Regions from separate parts of the Homo sapiens genome. Here all the other regions are linked to region 1. Evidence: fine-mapped QTL for protein levels in blood plasma. A gene starts in region 1. Each other region holds a variant in brackets. All regions are shown on one strand. Distances are from middle to middle.

The links. PIP is the chance, under the fine-mapping model, that this variant and not a neighbour inherited with it causes the effect. Protein levels are from antibody-based Olink assays in UK Biobank. Linkage for the fine-mapping came from a reference panel and not from the study's own genotypes, which makes the PIPs less certain.
Region 2: its variant is fine-mapped to the plasma level of the QPCT protein (UK Biobank, PIP above 0.99). The variant lies in the coding sequence of QPCT. If it changes the protein, the assay may bind it differently, which can mimic a change of level.
Region 3: its variant is fine-mapped to the plasma level of the QPCT protein (UK Biobank, PIP above 0.99). The variant lies in the coding sequence of QPCT. If it changes the protein, the assay may bind it differently, which can mimic a change of level.

What each region holds. Positions count from the first base shown.
Region 1 is chr2:37,338,537-37,345,751 of GRCh38, forward strand. QPCT (glutaminyl-peptide cyclotransferase) reads left to right here and starts at 6,094. Exons shown (of 7, transcript NM_012413.4): 1 at 6,094-6,315. The coding sequence starts at 6,196. It overlaps LOC124907754 (a long non-coding RNA gene), which reads right to left and starts at 6,519. Exons shown (of 2, transcript XR_007086284.1): 1 at 5,191-6,519; 2 at 880-2,191. RefSeq lists a silencer at 6,465-6,524.
Region 2 is chr2:37,361,230-37,368,444 of GRCh38, forward strand. QPCT (glutaminyl-peptide cyclotransferase) reads left to right here. Exons shown (of 7, transcript NM_012413.4): 4 at 6,003-6,179. Among named protein-coding and RNA genes, the nearest start is that of QPCT, 20 kb to the left of the region's middle. The variant G/C (reference allele first, on the strand shown) is at 6,126.
Region 3 is chr2:37,369,594-37,375,867 of GRCh38, forward strand. QPCT (glutaminyl-peptide cyclotransferase) reads left to right here. Exons shown (of 7, transcript NM_012413.4): 5 at 92-191; 6 at 2,763-2,879; 7 at 3,089-3,729. The coding sequence ends at 3,234. It overlaps LOC107985868 (a long non-coding RNA gene), which reads right to left. Exons shown (of 3, transcript XR_001739403.3): 3 at 5,679-6,274. Among named protein-coding and RNA genes, the nearest start is that of QPCT, 28 kb to the left of the region's middle. The variant A/C (reference allele first, on the strand shown) is at 3,227.

The DNA of each region.
Region 1 (7,215 bases):
TGTTATTTAATAGGACTGGGAAGTGAGAAGGCCAGAAAACCAAAGAAGAGGAACGTTTTTTTTCTCCTAGCTTTTATTGCCACCTTCACCCGACCTCTGATCTGGTGAAAGAAGTTGGGAATATTTACAGGAAATCTGGATTCCTGAGATTTCTAAGGAACACTAAAAATCTGACACTGGACTGCAGAGGCAAATATTTTAATTTTTCACTCTGCTATCGAAAGAGGTGGCGGACAGATTCAAACAAGAATATAATGTAGGACTCTTTACATTCTGTGACTATTAAAGGAACAAAAGGCAGGGTGCTTCAGTACTAGACTTGCATGGGGCCAGAAAGTTGGGGGGTTTGAATTTAAGCTGCCTACTTCATAATTTGTCTAAGGCTGGGCCACTTTCCCAATCTTTTTTGCTATTATCCTCAGGGCCTTATGAAATAACTACAATGCAACATGACTATTAATGTTATAGTTAATCTGATTATATGATTTTTGCTGATGTATTTCTCAAAGTGTGTGACTTCATGCAATGATTCTCAGCCGTGGCTGCACGTTAGAATCACCTGGGGAGCTTTTAAGCGATCTGACGCCCAGACCACACACCAGGCTAATCATATCAGAATCTCTGGGGGTGGAAGTCAGACATCACCATTTTCTAAAAAAGGCTTTCTAGATAATTTCCATGTGTAGCTACAGTTGTAAGCATTGGTTTAATGTATTATCATCTGTCTCTCTCAAGTAGAATGGTTTTAACATAGTGATTCTCTAATGTTTTGGTCTCAGAACTCCTTGCATTAGTAACAGTAATTGAGGACCACAAATAGCTTTCATTTATGTGGACCATGTCTATCAATATTTATTGTATTGAAAATTAGAACAGGCATTTTACAAATACTTAATTATGGATTTATTTTAAAAGAATAAAGTCATTGCATCTAAAGACACATGTTTTATGAAAAAATACATTTTCCAAAGTAAAAAGAGTTTAGTGAGAAGATTGGCATTTAAAAAAATCTCTTTAATTTCTGACTTTTTAGATGACAACTGGATTCCCATATTTGCTTATGCATTCCACCTGTTGTGATATATTATTTTGGCTGAAGTACATGAAGAAAATTTGACCCCACACGGACATGTAGTAGGAAAAAGGAAGAGTATTTTAATAGCCTCTTCAGATAACTGTGGATAATCTCCTTCATTATTAAATCAAAACATAACAAATGATAGTGTCATAAAAGGTACAACTTAAAATCTGCTTCTAAATACATGTTTTTATTCCATTACATTAAAATCCACTGGGTGTCTCTTATACTTTGAGTGGAACTTTTCTTTGTGACTTTGTAACATGATGAATTGAACATTTGGAAAATATTGCTTCACTGAGTTATGCAGATATTCCAAATGTTGAGCATTTCATTATATATAATAAATAATCACATTTGTTAAAATCACCAATTTTGTCATAAAAGTTGTTGCATATCAGGAAACTATCAAGCTTATGGTAGCAGATACAAGTTATCCAAAATTCCAATTTTTACTGCAAAGATCCAGTTTTATCACTGGCAACAAACAGTGTCAGTTATTTTCCTTCAAGGGATAGGCGCACTTTATTCATCTTCAAATGTCTGCCAAATATCCAAGTCTGAATAATCATAATTTATCAGTCATTGTTCTTTCAATTAAATTGGAATTTCATGAAAAAAGTAGCAAGTTCACTATGCTTCTCTCTCTCTCTCTTTTTCTTTTTTTGAGACTGTCTCTCTCTGTCACACAGGCTGGAGTGCAGTGGTGTGATCTCTGCTCACTGCAAACTCTGTTTCCCAGGTTCAAGTGATTCTCCTTCCTCAGTCTCTGGAGTAGCTGTGACTACAGGCACCTGCCACCATTCCCAGCTAATTTTTGTATTTTTAGTAGAGATGGGGGTTTTATCCTGTTGGCCAGGCTGGTCTTGAACTCCTAACCTCAAGTGATCCACCTGCTTTGTCCTCCCAAAATGTTGGGATTACAGATGTGAGCCACTGCGGCCCACTATACTTCTGAAACAACGGTACAAATGCTTTTCTTTGAGACAATTGCCCTTTGGTGTGCAGCAGAAGTGTTTGATTTCTACGTCTTATTTTCCCATGTGAGTATAAAGAGCTGCATACTCTCAATTTGTGCTTCCAGTTAAGATGGAACTGGATTTGTCATCCCACCTAAAATATATTAAAAATGACATTCACAATGGATTGGATAAAGAAAACGTCACACACACACACACACACACACACACACACACGCACACACACACACACACCCTGGAATACTACCAGCAATTAAAAATAACAAAATTTTGTCTTTTGTAACAACATGGATGGAACTGGAGGCCATTATCTTTAGTGAAACAGCTCAACTAGCACATGTTCTCACTTATAAGTGGAAGCTAAATAATGTGTACACAATGACATGAAGAGCTGAATAATAGACATTGGAGACTTGGAAGGGTGGGAGGGTAGGAGGGATGAGAAATTACCTGATGGGTAAATGTATACTATGTTTTCAGGTGATGCTTACACTAAAAGCCCAGACTTGTCCACTATGCAGTATATCCATGTACCAAAACTGCTCCTGTACTCTCTAAGTGTATAAAAATTTTTAAAATGATGCTTAAATATTGGAAAAGAGGTATCACAGGAAAGTGGTGAGAAAAGGGAAAATGAAATGAGATGAGCCTGATGTTTTCTCCAGCTTACTGCTTTGAGAGTTTCCAGGATGCAGTGCAGGTAGGAGGAGTCCACACAGAGCTGGTGGTCTCCATGAGATGAAAACGCAGACGTGAGGAGCTCTCTCTCCTCCTGTACTCTGTCCTGCTAGATTTAAAATCTAGCTTCATGGAGAGACAGCTTCAGAAGGCAGTAAAACAACAATTTTATTACTTCATCAATGACATTCTTAAGTGAAACTGGCTCTTTTTCTTTTCTTTTATCGTCCTCTTCTTTTTTTTTTTCTTTATGCGTGGCAGTGAAAAATACTAAGATGGCTGGGTATGGTGGCTTACGTCTGCAATCCCAGCACTTTGGGAGGCCGAGGCAGGTAGATCACCTGAGGTCAGGAGTTCGAGACCAGTCTGACCAACATGGTGAAACCCTGTCTCTACTAAAAATACAAAAATTAGCAGGGTATGGTGGTGCATGCCTGTAATCCCATCTCCTCAGGAGGCTGAGATAGGAGAATCGCTTGAACCTGGGAGGCAGAGGTTGTAGTGAGCCGAGATGGCACCATGGCACTCTAGCCTGGGAAATAAGAGTGAAACTCCTTCCAAAAAGAAAGAAAGAAAGAAAAACACAATGACTACAAGTATAGATTTTCCTCCTCAATAGTACAGTTTTGTGTCCTGTATTGACAGTTGCTAAGGTGCCAGCATTTTTACCCATCATTGCTTTTGCAACATCAGTGCAAAGTCTATACAGTAGAAAAAATGAATCTTGTTTTGGTATTATTATAAAAGTTGATTTGACTTTGGAGACAGCCAAGAGGGTCTTGGGGAATCCCCAGTATCCATGGACCACACTTTTGAAAACTATTGTTTTAATAGAACCTTCTGGTCATTACTACTTTGATCTAATGGCGCCACTTTAAAGGTGGGACTGGGTGTAGGAACATCCTGCCATGGCAGCTTCATGGAGAAGATCTGTTTTGGCAATTGGGTCCTTCATTTCCTTCACATCACAGTATGGAATCTATACTATAATGGAGGTAAAAATTTCTCCACTTGAGAACAGTGTTATCACTGTATATACAACACATTTTTTCCATGATGAAAAACAGGGTCTGAAACTTTAATTAAAATGGAAAAGTCATTAGTTATCTTCCATGGGAAGAGTTTGAAGAAAGGAAAAGTTGAAGTAGGGCAAAAATAGCAGATATAAGGTATTTCTAAACGTTTCCCAAATGAAGGAAGAGAGAAAAGAATGAGCGAAGGAAAGGAAAAGGGTATTTAGTGTGTAAGACACTAGAAAAGATATGCATAAGGAATGAAGTGATACATACATAGTGGTGTTGGATTTGTAGATTCTTGGAAAGTTGGCAGAAAAGCTTACATGTAAAAAAAAAACCAATGTATTGAAATCAGTCTCACTAGCTATGTGGAATGTTTTAGATTTGTACCAGATACAATACGTTTGTGGTGGATACAGGAGATGCGCTGCCCAGATCTGCCCCCAGGGAAGGACCCTGCTCCAGCTGTTGGAGGCCGGCTGGCCCACAGCCTCTAGCAGTCAAGCTCTTTTGGCTGGAAAGCCGCTTGCAGGAAATCACTCCATGGAGGTGCAGAGATAAGGCCCCAGACATTTTGGCCCAGTATGGGACAACTTTGACCGTCTTTTTCAGCTTCAGGACTCCCATGGAGTTGGGTGAGGTTGTTGGGCCCGCTTTGCTGCTAACTTCTCCCTCTGTTCTCTCCTGTTCCCCTTCTTCCTCCCACAGGGGTTTGTCCCAAGGGCACTCCCTAATACACATCCTGCATGTTAAACTCTTGTCTCAGAGTCTGCTTCCTGTAGATACCAAACTGTAAGAACATCTTATTGACTTAAATATAACCAAAATTGGAGAAACTTAGGAAACAAAATCATCATTACGTTATGTGCTGACATTTTAGCTTATTTCTATATTTCTTGTTTTGAATTGCTCATACTTAGCATGATAGTACCTCTCACATTTTGTTTCATTTAGGTTTGCTATTTCCACGTTCTCTTTCTTATAGGAACCATATTGTGAAAAGACATAAAGGTAATAGGGTAAAAAAAAGCAAATAGGCTCTTTATTACCCAGCCACTCAGGAAATGCACTATTTCAAGGTTGACCCAGGCAGCAAGAGAGGAGCTGTATTGGGGAATGTGACAGTGGTTTAGTTCTGAAACTGGAGCCAGTAGAAAGTTCTGAAGGGGGTCCGATGATCAGAACTGTCTGTGGGTTTAATAAAGGTGTATTTAATTTTATTTAAGCCTGGAGATTTAAATTGTCACTCAAAACTCTCAGACATGAATAGGGTTAGCAAATCTGTACACCAGGAAAGGAGTTATTTACATCCTGTCTTCTCCTACAGCTCCAGAGGAGGGCAGAACAGTGTATTTCCAGGCAAGCCCTCTCTTTAAAAACTCATAGCCAAGGCTGGGAAGACAGAGTGAGTGGGTGGGCCTTCTGGCAGCTTCCTTACCTTCAAATCTTTGCTCTCTGTGAAATGGTTCTGCTTCAGTATCCTTGTTCTGATTTTTCTGGGAACTAGATGTTACTGGGAGATGACTCAGAGCAGGCCAAGCCCTGATCCTCACTGTGGAAGCAAAAGAGGCTGGTGAAAGTCACTGTCCTGACAACTTGGACCAGAAACCTACAGACAAAACTGAAATGTTTTCCTGCCCTAGGATTATCTGGATAACAATGACCTTTGATGTTACAAAGTAAATAGAATTGTGTTTGGCTTTTCCTTTTGGGGCCATGCCTTGGAGAAGATGACTCCTTCAGAGCCGCTGTGAATATTGTAGATCTCATTATTTCAGATAATTACTTTGACCATCCTTTTCAATTTGAGAGTATGATGTGAGGCAAGGCAACTATTTGTGAGAAAAAAGAGAAAAGGCAAAGATCCACTGTCATACTTTTGCTTGTGGGTTCCAGTCCAGGCTTTCTATGGGGGGTGGGGGGGTGTCTCAGTCTCCCCGTCTGTAAAATGGGATTAGTGGATTAAATCCGGGAAGGTTGGACAAGCACCTAGGACGGTGCCTGGTGCCGTGTTCAGCAGACGTCGATTCCCTGTCCACCCCTTCTTTAGGAGCTGTGGGAAACACTTCATAACTCCCCAGGGTCTGGTGAACCCTTCCTCCCTTTTCTGTTCCCTGTTTTGGCATTGGAGATCATAAAAAGGCTCTTCCATGTCTCTTGCTTCCTTCCTTTCATCTTCTCCAAGAGAAGGAAGTGGCCGCCTTTGTTAGCTTGGGTTCAGAAGCTTGTGTCTGTCACCCAGGGCCGCCCAGCCCCGGGGTTTGCGAAGGTCCGGGGTAGGAGGGCTGCAGCCTGCGCGACGCGGCGGGAGGCTACCCGGGGGCGATGGGAAGGCGGGCGCAGTCGACCCAAGGGTGGAGAAGAGGGAAGGCGAAGGACGCGCGTTCCCGGGCTCGTGACCGCCAGCGGCCCGGGGAACCCGCTCCCAGACAGACTCGGAGAGATGGCAGGCGGAAGACACCGGCGCGTCGTGGGCACCCTCCACCTGCTGCTGCTGGTGGCCGCCCTGCCCTGGGCATCCAGGGGGGTCAGTCCGAGTGCCTCAGCCTGGCCAGAGGAGAAGGTGAGGGGCTGTTTCTGCGTAGTTGTACTTGAGCGGCTCTGGTCCGATGCGAGGACCCCTGGCCGGGTCAGCCCTACCTAGGCAGAGCGGGAGGCGGGGCAGGGCCACGGTCCCCAGCCCAGGCACCGGCGCCCCACCCGGCGCCCGGAGGAGTCGGGGCTCTGCATACTCGCCGGGGTGCCTCGGCCAGTCCGGGGCTGTTCTGGAGACGCCAGGGGGGCTGGGTGATGTCACTGGCCTCTCCTGGGCTGCGGTCTGATGGGGGTGCTGATAGGCACAGGAAATGTGTCTCGCCGGCGGCTGCTGAGCCGGGAGGCGAGGGCGCATCGCGGCGCCACCCCCCACTCGGGACCCTGGAGGGCAACGGGGCCGGCGCTCCGGGGCCGCTAGGGTGCGGGGTGCGCCTGGGGGTGTGCCCACAGCCCCCCCGCTGCTTCATCCAAGGATGCTGCTGGGGCGCTGAAGTGTCCCTACAGTCTCAGGACGGATGTGTGTTGTTTGTTTTAGATTTTTAAAAGGAGCAACTCGGCAGGAAGGACCTTTACTGGAGACCTGCTTACTTCAAAAGCCTTTTTCCTCCACTTAAAAGAGGGTACCTGCTATTTTCAGAGAAAATGGATCTAGTTGTAGGTAGAAATCGCATATAAGGAACTTAGGATAAAAGTGATTTGCAAGTTCCCTCTGTAAGAAGTGTATGGGTTCGGCCGGGCGGGGTGGCTCACGCCTGTAATCCCAGCACTTTGGGAGGCCGAGGCGGGTGGATCACGAGGTCAGGAGATCGAGACCATCAGGGCTAACATGGTGAAACCCTGTCTCTACTAAAAAATACAAAAAATCAGCCGGGCGTGGTGGCACGCACCTGTAATCCCAGCTACTCGGGAGGCTGAGGCAGGAGAATGG
Region 2 (7,215 bases), 23 kb after region 1:
TGGTATTGAGAAGTTAAGTTCTTCAGCTGTCATGGATTGGGTAGACGGTGGTGGAAAGTGACCTGAAAGAGTGCTTGATAAGTAGACTGGATTATTCGCAACTCTTCATAGCTCCACTTCTCTCCAGTAATAGGACTGTCATTACACATCCACATCCTTTGCCTGGTAACTTTGCTGTGCCCTCCCACTGTAGCCAGTTGTACTTCCTCATCCCTTCACTCTGGACTTCATTATTTGACTTGCCTTAGCCAATGGGATGTTAGTAGAGGTGACACAAACAGGGGCTGGAAGTGTGCTTGTGCCATTGGGCTTGCTCTTCCGTGTCTTTGCCATAACCATGAGAATGGCATGCCCTGGCTAGCCTGCCAGTCCCAGCAGAAGGATGAGACACCTGGAGCAGAACCAACCTTGCTGACTGCACAGTGAAGCAGAGCTGCCCCAGCCAAACCCATTCTAGATCAGCTGCTCCCTAGCTGACCAGCAGAGGTTATGTATCCCAAGAAGATACATAATGGTATTTTAAGCCACTGTGTTGATGGGGTGTTATTCTATTCTATTATTGCAACATTAGCTAACTGATACAGCCTTGAATGGGGAAGGACTGCAGATAACCCAGACTGTGTGAACGCTGGTAATTAGGCATTTGTAGTGTTACCATGAAGACCTTCATACATCAGGCCAGTCAGATTCTCCTAGCTCCAAGGTACTAGGCTGAGTTACTAGTAACGAAGGCCATGGCTATTTTTCTGCCATTCCTGAAATGAAGCAAAAAGAGCAGGTTGCCTCATGGGACTCAGGATGAATGTCCACAACAGTTTATTGCTGGCTAAATGAATGGATATTAGGCGAACAGAATGAAAGCAAATCGTTGTACTGATCATTGGAGTCTCCCAGCTGTTGAAGTTTCACTGAGGTACTTGAACTGTCAAGCCTGCAAGAGATAAAAACTATTTCCGTTTGCCTATGCCCTGGGCATGAGCAGAATGCCTCTTGTCCCAACCGGTCCCGTTCTGCCCTCTTGTTCTGCGATTATGTTGTCTGATTTGAAGCTAGAACTTTCAAGGCCCTTTAAACAACTGGAAGCTTAGAATGTCTCTACTGAAGCAAGCACCTTACAATTTTTGCCAACGAGAAAATCTGTTTAATTATTTAATGCTTATTAAACCCTGAGTGCATTTATATTGCACAAACACATCCTCTGCTTAATGCTCTCCAGGAGTTATGGAGGATTCAAATCAAATTACACTGTCCTTTCCTCATGGTATAATTAAGGAGCAATATGAAATGATTAGCGTACAAAATTAAGTTAGTTTTCAGATGATAAAGACAATTTTTTTCTCTTTTGAAATCACCGTTAAAACAATCAGGGAAACTCCATTTTTTGAAGAAAGTAGAGAACATCTGTGAATAGGAACCACAATATGAAGACAGAAGTTGGATGGAGAAATGGCAGATGACATATCAGAGTGGAGAGAAGTCACACTGTCCTGGAGAGGGAAGAAATGGAAGAAGCCAGTGGTTTCCTTGATAGAATCCTAAAAAGGCTCAGGAATTAGAGATGTGATAAGCTGAGGAAGGCAGAGGTGAGGAAGGGGCTGGTGTGGAGAGTGTTTCTAAGTCTGTCTAAGGAATATGTGGATGTAGAGATTCCCACCCCACACCAGGCAGGTAAGTGAGTGCCCCCTTGTGCCTTTGCCACAGATGAGAAAATATTTTTCTGGAGAAATTGAACCAGGGAGGTTATGGAATTGAGAATAGCAAGTATACAGGAGGGTGACAGTGGGGCACCCCATGGAAATCGGGGAGATTAGGCGAAAGCCTACACATTGAACAGTGAGATCTATAGTTTCTCTCCCATCTTCAGCACCAGAAAGCCATCAGATAGGAAACTGGAGGATTCTTCTTCAGACCGTGTGAACCACCCCGCAGAAAAATCCCAGATGGTGACATTCAGTAATCCTCAGTGAAAACACTGGCTGGGCACCAGATTGCCTTGCAGTGAAGCCAACCAATCTGTGTCTCCAACCAGCATTTTAATATCTTATTCTTTAACATGAATGAACACAAAGGATGACCAGACATTTGAGGACAGACTCCAGCATGAAAGAAAGGGCCTGGAGCAGTGGCTCATGTCTGTAATCCTAGCACTTTGGGAGGCCGAGGTGGGAGGATTGCTTGAGGCCAAGAGTTTGAGACCAGCCTGGGCAACATAGTGAGGCTCCCTCTCTACAAAAAAAAAAAAAAAAAAAAAATTAGCTGGTTATGGTGGTACACACCTGTAATCCTAGCTACTTGGGAGGCTGAGGCAGGAGGATTGCTTGAGCCCAGGAGTTCAAGGCTGCAATGCACTATAATTGAGCCACTGCACTCCAGCCTGGGCAACAGAGTGAGACCCTGTCTCTTAAATAAATAAATACTTTTTTAAAATGTAAAAAAAAAAAAAAAAAAAAATAGAAAGCAAAACAAATCATACAAATTTAAAATGAAGTGGGAGGAAATAGAGCAGAAAATGACTTAAAGGACACTGTTCTAATATTCTTACAGAGATAAGAGGAGACATTATATCTATGAAACAAAACCAGAATGCTGCAATAACAGAACAATTGGTCAATAAGGAGGAGCTTTTGGAAATTAAAATTTCTATTTTCAAAATAAATAAATCAATAAAACAGTTGGATCCTAAAGTAGAAGAAGTATCTTTTTTTAGAAGAGGAATGACAAAAAGGAGACGATTATGACTTTTGGAGAATAATTGTAACAATTCCAGTTAGGTCATATAAAAAGTATTGGGAATGAGAATGGCACTGGACTTCTCAATAGAAACTTTGGGAGCTAGAAAACAATGAAATTATGCCTTAAATATTTTAAATAAAAATAATTTGCAACCCAGAATCTTCAGACCCAGAAAAATTAAATAGGAAAATAGAATGAAGACATTTTCAGAGGTAAATCTCAACAATTTTCACTCCCATGTACTGTATTTTTGCCCTAGAAGTTGCTTAAAGCTGTGCTCCAGAAAAATCAAGAAAGAAATCAAGGATGAGGGAGTCATGGAGTTCAGCTCACTGGGGGTCCCATATAGGAGAGGCAGAAATCTGCAGGTTGATGGTGAGGGGAGCCCCAAGATAACAAACAGATAGGCAGCAGGCCTAGTGGTCGGTCCAGGCTGGAGCAGGCAGCAGAGGGCTCCGGAAGGGCCCATTCTTAAAAAACAAAACCAGACAGACATGAGAAATAAAGGTGTGATAGTGTCTGGAACGCTTGACCACATAATGGTGAAGACATATTAGGCTCAAAGAAAACAAAGCAAATGAAAGAGAGGCCTGTGGTGAGGAATGGTGGGAAACAGGTTTGCAGAGGCAGGACGAACTGGATTGCGATGTTTGTGTACATGGAAAAGGACAGAAAGAGACAGATCCCCACTGGTTTTTGGTCTGAGTAACTGCAAGGGGGGTTTTGCCATCCATTTGGTTGAAGAGACTGTTGGTAATACAGATTTCCGGGGGAACCTCAGGAGATGAGTTTTGACACTTTGTTCGAGGTGTCTATTAACGTCTATGTGGAGATCTTCATTTGGCAACTGAAATTGTAGTCTGGAGATCGGCAGTGAAGTCAGGGCTGGAGATATATTTTTTGGAATTGATATTTACATGTATGTGTGTGTTGTGTTGTGTGTGTGTATTATTATAATATAATACAATATAATATAACATATAATATGTATATATAGAGAGACCAGCCTGGGCAACATACTAAGGCTCCGCCTCTACAATATTATTATTATTATTATTATTTTAAAATAATTATATTAAAAATTTTATATATATAACAATACACACACAACACAGCACACACACACACACACACAAGACAACACACACATACCCACACATATATGATTTAAAGCCTCAAGAAGAGATATCAAGACAGTGAGTGAGTGTGGACAGAGAAGAGAAGAGAACCATGGAGCAAGCCCCTGAGGCTCTCTAGTGTGAAGAGGGAAGGGAGATGAAGGGAGCCATTAGTGCTAAGGTAGGAGGAATATGGTATCTTAGGAACCAAATGAAGCAAGTGTAGCCAGGAGGGAGTAATTAACTGTGTTGAATGCTGACAATAAGTCAAGAGAGATGAAGACTGAGAGTTGACCACTGGATGTAGCCATGTAGAGTCATTGGTGTCTTGACAAGAGCAGTTTCAGTACACGGTGGAGATAAAACCCAACTGGGCTAAGTTTAAGAAGTGGGATTGGAGACAGCGTGAATAGACAACTCCTTCAAGGGGTTTTGCTATAAATGGGATTACAAAATTGGGCAGTAGATGGTGGAGATAGTGAGGTCAAATATTTTAAGATGAGAAAAGCAACAGCATGTTTGTTGGCCGATGGGAATTATCCAGCAGAGATAGAAAAATTGATGATGTAGGAGAGAAATGGTATTTGCTAGAGCAATGTCCTTGAGCAGATGAGAGAGGATAGGATTTTGTGCATAAGCAGGGAGACTGGCATCTGATATGAGCATGACAGAAAGAAATCAAGGTCATCGGTTGGGAATGAAGATGGGTGAGGTGGCAGGGAGAGGAGGAATGTGAAATCCTAGAAGAGTGCCAGAGTGACTGAACTAAGAAAATACAAATGACTTGCCAGTCAACATGAAAGGCCAATGTGAGGTTTGTGGTCATGAACTTTAAGCAAGGCCAGACAGTGTGGTTATATATTTTTTTCTCTGGTGAGGTTTAGCTGCACGAGTGCTGGCACAAAGTAGGTAGAGTATGTTTTTGCCATGAAAGTTTGACAAAGGCAGAAAGGGGCAAGGGAGTTGAGGGTGTATGCTAGTGAGTGATTGGCATGATTGACTGGAATTTAAGCCAAATATAGAGTGAAGTGAGGACATTATGGGGGTGAAGGACCATGAAAAGGTGAAACATTCAGTAGATTAGGGGTTCCAGTGGGATTGAAGGACTTTGGAGTTTAGAGTACCAGGACCAATCTGAAAGACAGGGGTTATTGTCAGACGGAGGAAAGTGTAAAATCAGTTAGAATCCTAGTCACTCTTTTTAGTTCCATTCAAATACTGTCTTTTTCATAAAGCCCTCCTTGACACCCCCAGGATTTTGCTTCTCATTCTATCCAATTTCTAGAGGACTTTAATGTTACATTTGTGGCTGGTGGCACATTTTGCCATGCTTATGTATTTGTTTTATCTCTCCCCAACCCAACTAAAGTATAGGCTATTTCAAGGGAAGGGCTATAATTATTATTCTTCGTGTCTGTAGCATTCCTAGGGCAGACTCTTGAAGCTAGACTCAGTACAAAATTGAAGATGTAAATAAGGTGAGAAGCAAGAAAGATTTACAGTTGTTTCAGGTTGGATTCCCCAAGAAGCGCCCTCTGACATGGAGTTTAGTATTCAGGTCACTTATTAGGGAGTGGCCTTGGATCAACACAGGTATCAGGGAGGGGAAAGAAATGGTGTTGGACGGAGGAAGAAGTCGAGCTGCAGTGCAGGTTCAACAACGGCCTCAGCCAACCCCTGCGGAGCTCTGGAGATATGATGGCTCTTTAGAGAGCCCCCCGTACCCGTGTAGGTCAGCACTGGATGTGGGACACTCCCAGGAGGTGCAGCTGAGGCAATTCCTAAAGTGACTGACGGCTCTTCCAGCAGCTGAGGCAACACACCCTCCTGTATGGGAAGTGGGTGGTGTATCACACGATTCATCACAGCACTTTCATTGTTTCAAAATTCTGTGAGGAGTAAGAAAAAATATAAAAGACTTCTATTTTCAGAGGGAATGGAAGAAGGTGGTTTATATGGGTGAAGACTGTGGGAGGTGTGATGACTTTTGAAGAGGAAGTGGTGTGGAATAAATTTTGCCATAGTTTCACTTGCTTTGGTATCTTCCTTTCTTTATGGCACATCTATCTTTTTGCCCAATTAATAGAAAATCATGCTATTTTTCATCATCACAGTATTTTTTTGCTATGTTTTTATTGTTGTTTTTACCAGACTGTTTCAGACTCCAAGCCAGATTTGTCACTCCAGCTGATCTTCTTTGATGGTGAAGAGGCTTTTCTTCACTGGTCTCCTCAAGATTCTCTCTATGGGTCTCGACACTTAGCTGCAAAGATG[G/C]CATCGACCCCGCACCCACCTGGAGCGAGAGGCACCAGCCAACTGCATGGCATGGTTAGTCTGGGCAATTTCCCTAGCACTGTAGCTGTAGGCTCCGCTTCCAAGGAAAAGGTTGCAAAAGCCAAGTAAAGACCTAAAAATGCCACAGCATCCTTGGAGCACAGTGTTTATGATAGAACATTCCTTGGCAGGCATTGGGTTTTTGAGGAATCCCAGAGCTAAAAAGAATGATTCTGAGCTGGCTCTGTGGCTCATACCTGTAATCCCAGCATTTTGGGAGGTTGAGGTGGGAGGATCACTTGAGCCCAGGAGTTCGAGACCAGACTGGGCAACATAAGGGGACTTCGTCTCTACAACAAATAAAATAATTAGCTGGGTGTTGTGTATGCCTGTAATCTTAGCTACTCAAGAGGCTAAGGCAGGAGGATTGTTTGAGCCCAGGAGTTCGAGGCTGCCGTGAGCTATGATTGCTCCATTGCACTCCAGCCTGGGTGACAGAGGGAGACTCTGTTAAAAAAGAAAGAAAGAAAGAAAAATTGCTGGTTAGAAGCCATGTTTGACTGAGCTTAATTAAAATGATAAAATCATGTAAAAAATTGGATTACAGGAACTTCAGATTCAGTTGGGCCCAATGGGAGCACATTCCCCCAGTACTGTATGGAGGTGGAGAGAGCAAACCCCTTCTTTCAGGCCTTTATAAGTCTGAAGAACATGGGGCTTTGGGAAATGGAATAAAAGAGGGGTGAGGGTGAAGAATTTCCTTGGTGGCTTCAAAGTATTACCGTGACTCCAGTGTGACTATGACAGTTTGATGTGTTGGTTTTGATGTGGCATTTTTGACATGGGGGTGGGGATATTTTGATGCTGCCTTAAAACCCTGCTATTATTACTAAGTAATGAGTGCAACACACAGCCTCATTTTCATCCCCATTCCTGGGCCCACACTCCATCCCTAATCCCTCCCCCGACCCCTGCATCTTCTCCTGACTCTGACTCTCTTCCCATATTTGATCTTCTTTCTGTCCCCACGTCTTCACTAACCCCAGCTTGGAACCTCATGCTACCCTTGAGACTTCACTAGCCCCGGTGC
Region 3 (6,274 bases), 31 kb after region 1:
TGCAGTTAATTTTGACTGATTGTATTTCCCTGTTGATGAATATAAAACACGTTTTGGTGATGGTGATTAAACATTACTTTTTCTCCCTCAGGATTTATTGGTCTTATTGGATTTGATTGGAGCTCCAAACCCAACGTTTCCCAATTTTTTTCCAAACTCAGCCAGGTGGTTCGAAAGACTTCAAGCAATTGGTAAGCACCACTGTTATTAATGAATAAAACATCATTTCTTGCTACTGACAGATACTACATTTTTAACATTTAAAATTTATAATTTGGCTGGGCGCAGTGGCTCACACCTGTAATCCTAGCACTTTGGGAGGCCAAGGCAGGCAGATCAGCTAGGGTCAGGAGTTTGAGACCAGCCTGGCCAACATGAAACAGGGCTTTCATGTTTAGTAGAGACGGGGTTTCACTAAACAAATACAAAATAAATACAAAAATTAGCTGGGTGTGGTGGCGGGCACCTGTAATCCCAGCTACTTGATAGGCTGAGGCATGAGAATCACTTGAACCTGGGAAGCAGAAGTTGCAGTGAGCCAAGATGGTGCCATTGCACTCCAGCCTGGGTGACAGGGTGAGGCGCCATCTCAAAAAAGAAAAAAAAATTATAATTTAAGTATATGATTTAAATGTGTAATATACTTTATTGGCTTTTTTTCTTGCTTAATTGATTAGTTTATTATTCTTTTCATCTTTGTAGTAAGCCCAGTTTATTTTCCTGCATGAAACTATATTTTGAAATGGAAACATAAAATACTACATTTCATGTTTGCACATCCTTAAAAATGGTTTGAAAATATTTGAAAATATTTTCCCAGAGTCCTGTTTGAAGCAGGTAGAATGCGTTTCGAGAGAAAAGTTTACTCAACAAAGCATGCTGGCTAATGATGAATATGATGTCCTTATAATGATACCAAAAGATATTCTTCAGTTTTTCTTTTCCATCTCTGTCTTTGCCATCTTCTATTTTCTACCTTATCCAGATATTATTTTCCTTTAAATCTAGTACAGTCTCTGCCAATTTTCCAAAGAAGCAAGAGATCAGGATAAAGAGAAAGCCAGATCCTTTGAGATTTAGAGTCAAATAAATGGGAGTTGACTAGGCCAGACCAGGTCAGGTCAGGCCAGCCCAAGAAACATACGTATCTATGGCTGAAGAGGGGAGCTTGGGGCTTGGAGAAAGAAAAGGAGAATAACTTTGTACTACCACCCTACCCAAAACAAAACAAAACAAAACAAAGCAAACTCTTGGCAGGCATCAGGGAAAGATGAAAATGAGATTGATCTTTATTGTAGAATCCAGGCCAGGGGGCTGCTTTGAAGGCAAGAATTTCATGCTAGAAATTCCTTACTAGCCACACAAACTTCTTGGAGCAAGATAGACTTGTATTACTTCTAACAGTGGGAAAAACACTGCCATCATAACTCACACTTTTGCCATGAGTAAAGAATTTGTCTAGAATCTTAGAGAAACTTCTGCTTGAACTTTAGGTGCATGTCATTGACAAATTTCATTTCCTAGTTTGAAAGAGTTACTCTAATGGTGTTATTAATATAAACTTCTTGGGCTTCTTCCTTGCAGCATATTTTCCTTACTTTGATGGTAGCCTTGAGAAACTGAGTTTGGCTTTCTTTCAAGGATTTTGTGCACTTTTATTATGTCCTGTACCAGAATGAACTTATGCCAATAACTTGCACCTTCATTCAATTTTAACCCATTGTGCCCCTCCTATTGGTATTTACATTTCAAACCATATCTCTAGTTGTATAAGAGAAAGCAGTGAGCTGAGGTGGCGCCACTGCACTCCAGCCTGGGCGACAGCGAGACTCCATCTCAAAAAAAAAAAAAAAAAAAAAGAAAAAGTTGTGTCTCATGGTAAAGGAATTATAAGTATCAATAAACAGACAAGAATATTGTTTTTGGTGGTAGTTAGGGCTTTCTCAATGTTTCTAGAATCATATTACATATGATTGATTACTAGTTGGTTTAGTTTTACCTTAGCTAGTTCCTAGCTATCCTAGGAAGTTTCATTTGGTTGTCTTATAATATTCATGTAATCTCTTGTCATCTTGTAACATACAATACATGACTTATGTAGGCCAGTGGTTCTCAAACTTTAAAGTGCATCAGAATCACCTGGAGGGCTTCTTCCACACAGATTGCTGGACTCCAGCCCCAGAATTTCTGTAAGTCTGAGATGGGACCAGATAATTTGCATTTCTGACACGTTCCTAGGTGTTGCTGATGTTGCTGGTCAGACATCACACTTTGAGAACCACTGATGTAGGTCACACTAGGTATCTCTTTCCCATAGAGTGGCCACTTGATATACTTCATCTCTACTCTGTTTGAGTATTCCCCTTTTAAGCCCCATATCTCATCTAAGGCATTCTTCATGCAGCATCTTGGACCTATAAGCATCTACACCTGCACCTGTGTTGTCCCCTTCCACCCACCTGTCCTCTGTTTTTTTCATTCTCTATCTCTTCACTGTTCTGTGGAGTTTCTACCTCTAAGGAGGTTCTCACCTGTAAGTTTAGAGCCACATTTGACTCTTCTCTCTTCCTGCTCCAAAGTGTACACATCCCTGTTCAACCCAGATGTTTATTGTCATGGGTGTGGCCATGCTTGCTGTTGCATAATCTTTTACAAATTATGGACACATGTGCTAAGATTTCAAACTCCTTAAATAAGGATACATTATGAGTCTTGATAAGATAAAAATAGTTGTTCATTTACTGTATAATTGTCATCTACAGAACATGAACTTCATGAATTGGGTTTGCTCAAGGATCACTCTTTGGAGGGGCGGTATTTCCAGAATTACAGTTATGGAGGTGTGATTCAGGATGACCATATTCCATTTTTAAGAAGAGGTAATGTGTGTGTGTGTGTGTGTTTGTGTGTGTGTGCGTGCACAGCCTGATTTTGGAGTACAACGGTGGGATATGAGAAAGTACACAGATGATGATGAATTATCAGCTGTCTTTATGTGGTACAGAGCTCCCTCTGCTTGAAGAATGACCCTTTCTAGTTTACTCACTGGAGTAATGCACATTGTTACAAGTTGGTTCTTTCTTAATAGGTGTTCCAGTTCTGCATCTGATACCGTCTCCTTTCCCTGAAGTCTGGCACACCATGGATGACAATGAAGAAAATTTGGATGAATCAACCATTGACAATCTAAACAAAATCCTACAAGTCTTTGTGTTGGAATATCTTC[A/C]TTTGTAATACTCTGATTTAGTTTAGGATAATTGGTTCTAGAATTGAATTCAAAAGTCAAGGCATCATTTAAAATAATCTGATTTCAGACAAATGCTGTGTGGAAACATCTATCCTATAGATCATCCTATTCTTATGTGTCTTTGGTTATCAGATCAATTACAGAATAATTGTGTTGTGATATTGTGTCCTAAATTGCTCATTAATTTTTATTTACAGATTGAAAAAGAGGGACCGTGTAAAGAAAATGGAAAATAAATATCTTTCAAAGACTCTTTTAGATAAACACGATGAGGCAAAATCAGGTTCATTCATTCAACGATAGTTTCTCAACAGTACTTAAATAGCGGTTGGAAAACGTAGCCTTCATTTTATGATTTTTTCATATGTGGAAATCTATTACATGTAATACAAAACAAACATGTAGTTTGAAGGCGGTCAGATTTCTTTGAGAAATCTTTGTAGAGTTAATTTTATGGAAATTAAAATCAGAATTAAATGCTATGTTGTGATGTCTTTTTTATATATAAAAATAGTGATATAATTTAATGCATAGTCCAATTTTTATAGGATTTTGCAAATTTAACGTTCTCATTGTAAAAATAATAGTCAATAACAAACATTTTGGAAAATGGAGAAAAGAAGAAAACTATAATCCCATTATATTAACAGAATCACCATTAGTTCGCTTTTTAGTTTTTCCTCACTTTTTCTTTTTTTTTTTGAGACAGGGTCTCACTCTGTTGCTCAGGCTGGAGTGCAGTGGCATGATCATGGCTCACTGCAGTCTTGACCTCCTCGGCTCAAGCGATCCTCTCACCTCCACCCTACGAGTGATTGGGACTACAGGCATGCACTACCTAGCTAATTTTTTTGCCTGGCTAATTTTTTTGGTATTTTTGTATGGATGTGGTTTCTCCATTTTGCCCAAGCTGGTCTTGAACTCCTGGGCTCAAGCATTGTTCCTGTCTTGGCCTCCCAAAGTGCTGGGATTATAGGCACGAGCCACTGCATCCAGCCTCCTCACATTTCTTAAATGCAGATTTTTCTTATAAAGGTATAATCAAACTGTATTACAATTTTTTGGCCTGTTTTTTCCTGTTAAACTATGTGATTACCAGGCATATATTTGCTGTTTTGGTTTTGGATTGAGGTGAGGACAGAAAAAGACTGCTGAATGTGAACTCTAGAGTCAACATTAAGGTAACACAGTAGTACTGCAGTAGTTGTGACAATTTTTGTGTAGATAGATTATATGGTATTCGTTCGGTTAGTTACTTAGAGCATTTTTTTCTGGAAATACATAGGCATTCATAAGTTGTCTTTAGCTATAGGAAACAATTATCTAGAAATACAAACTTGATCAATTAAATAATTAGGAAATCGTTCCTGGCATACAGATGAAGTTAGTTGGGGCCACTGTCTTCTGTGTGTTCCCTGTTCGGACAAGACATTTAGTAAATACTCAGTGAATTAATGTGCCGAATGACAATGGAAGTCATTGGGAAAGTAATTTACTTGCTAAAACATAGTTTTCAGGTAAGAAAAGGATAAAAATAATTTCATCAATTTGACTATGTAAATTATATAGAATATAGCCAGAATTATATATGTATACTTAGGTATTTTCTATGCTATATATAACATTTATAGATAAATATATATTACATTTATATATACTTATATATAACATTACCTGTCTATAATTTCATGTTGGTAAATTTTACAGAATTAGATTTTTCTAGGATTCTTTTTTATTTTCTAAATGTCCTTCCAAAGTCATGTAAATGAAAGTCGTGTGTTTGTGAATTAATGATATTAAGAGCTAACACTTAGACTGAGTGCTAACTCTGTGCCAGACAGAGTCACATATGCTTTATATGTTTTACTAACTTAATCCCCACAACAATTGTGTGAGGTAGGTGTTAGTAAGCTTACTTTATGATGCTCAGAGTAGTTAAGTGTATTTTCCAATATTACATAACTAGTAAGTGGTAATAGTGGGAGTTGTACCCAAGAAGTCTAGCTCTAAAGCTTATACTTGGGAACCATTCTAGAATATTGCCCATTTACATGAAAAGAACTATACAGAATATTCCCGATGCCAAATGCAAAGCAATAGTTGTATCTTGAAATTTTTATAGGTCATTTCAAACTGGGGATGCATTCTTAGGTCATTGCTGCCACGATTCACCTGACAACATAGGCTTCAGAGACACATAATTTCTATGCAGAATGATTACTCTGCCGTAGTGAAGGCTATTTTTGCGTAAGTGTGGGTATATACAAATCAACACGAGTGGTTCCAGGCTAAAGTATCTAAGCCACAAAGCAGGATTAAAGGGAGCTGAGTTTTCTGGATTTTTTGGATGAGAGAAAACATATGGAAAGAGTTCAGGGAAAACACATATTTTTTAACATGAGAAAATAAATGGTCTAACAGACTGATGATATTAAAACAGAATGAAATGAAGTTTTAATGAGGAACCTAAACATTAGTCGACAGTACTGCATACATAATTATAAGCCTAAATGATAAGCTCCTTTGGAGGCAAAATGAAATTAATAAGAGATCTACTATAATCTGTTGAGTTCACATTAGTTGAATTATTTTTAGAGGAGGTTGGTGGATATGTTGAAATGGGATAAAAGAAAAAATAAAACCATAAGCAGCTTAATTCAGTGAAGGTTTTCTTCCTTTGAAAAGACATATCCTCAAATTCTACTCACTAAGAGTTTGCACTGATATAGGAAAAGCAGCCATGATGTCATAAACGGAGACATTTTAAGGCATTAACCTGATATTAGTCTCTGAAATATGCTCTGTATAATTCATGTCAGTCAGAAATATTACTTTCTAAAAATTATAGCTGCAAAGGCAGTGCTCCATAAACATCAGGTTGCATTTGGAATTTTTCTATGTGCATTTTGGAGCATTTTACTGCCCCTAAGAGAACAATTTGTACGTTTTGTCTGTTATTGTCAATCCTGCAATATGTAGGGCTATTTTTCTTCTTCAAGAGAAATGAGTTCAAAGGAAAATATTCAT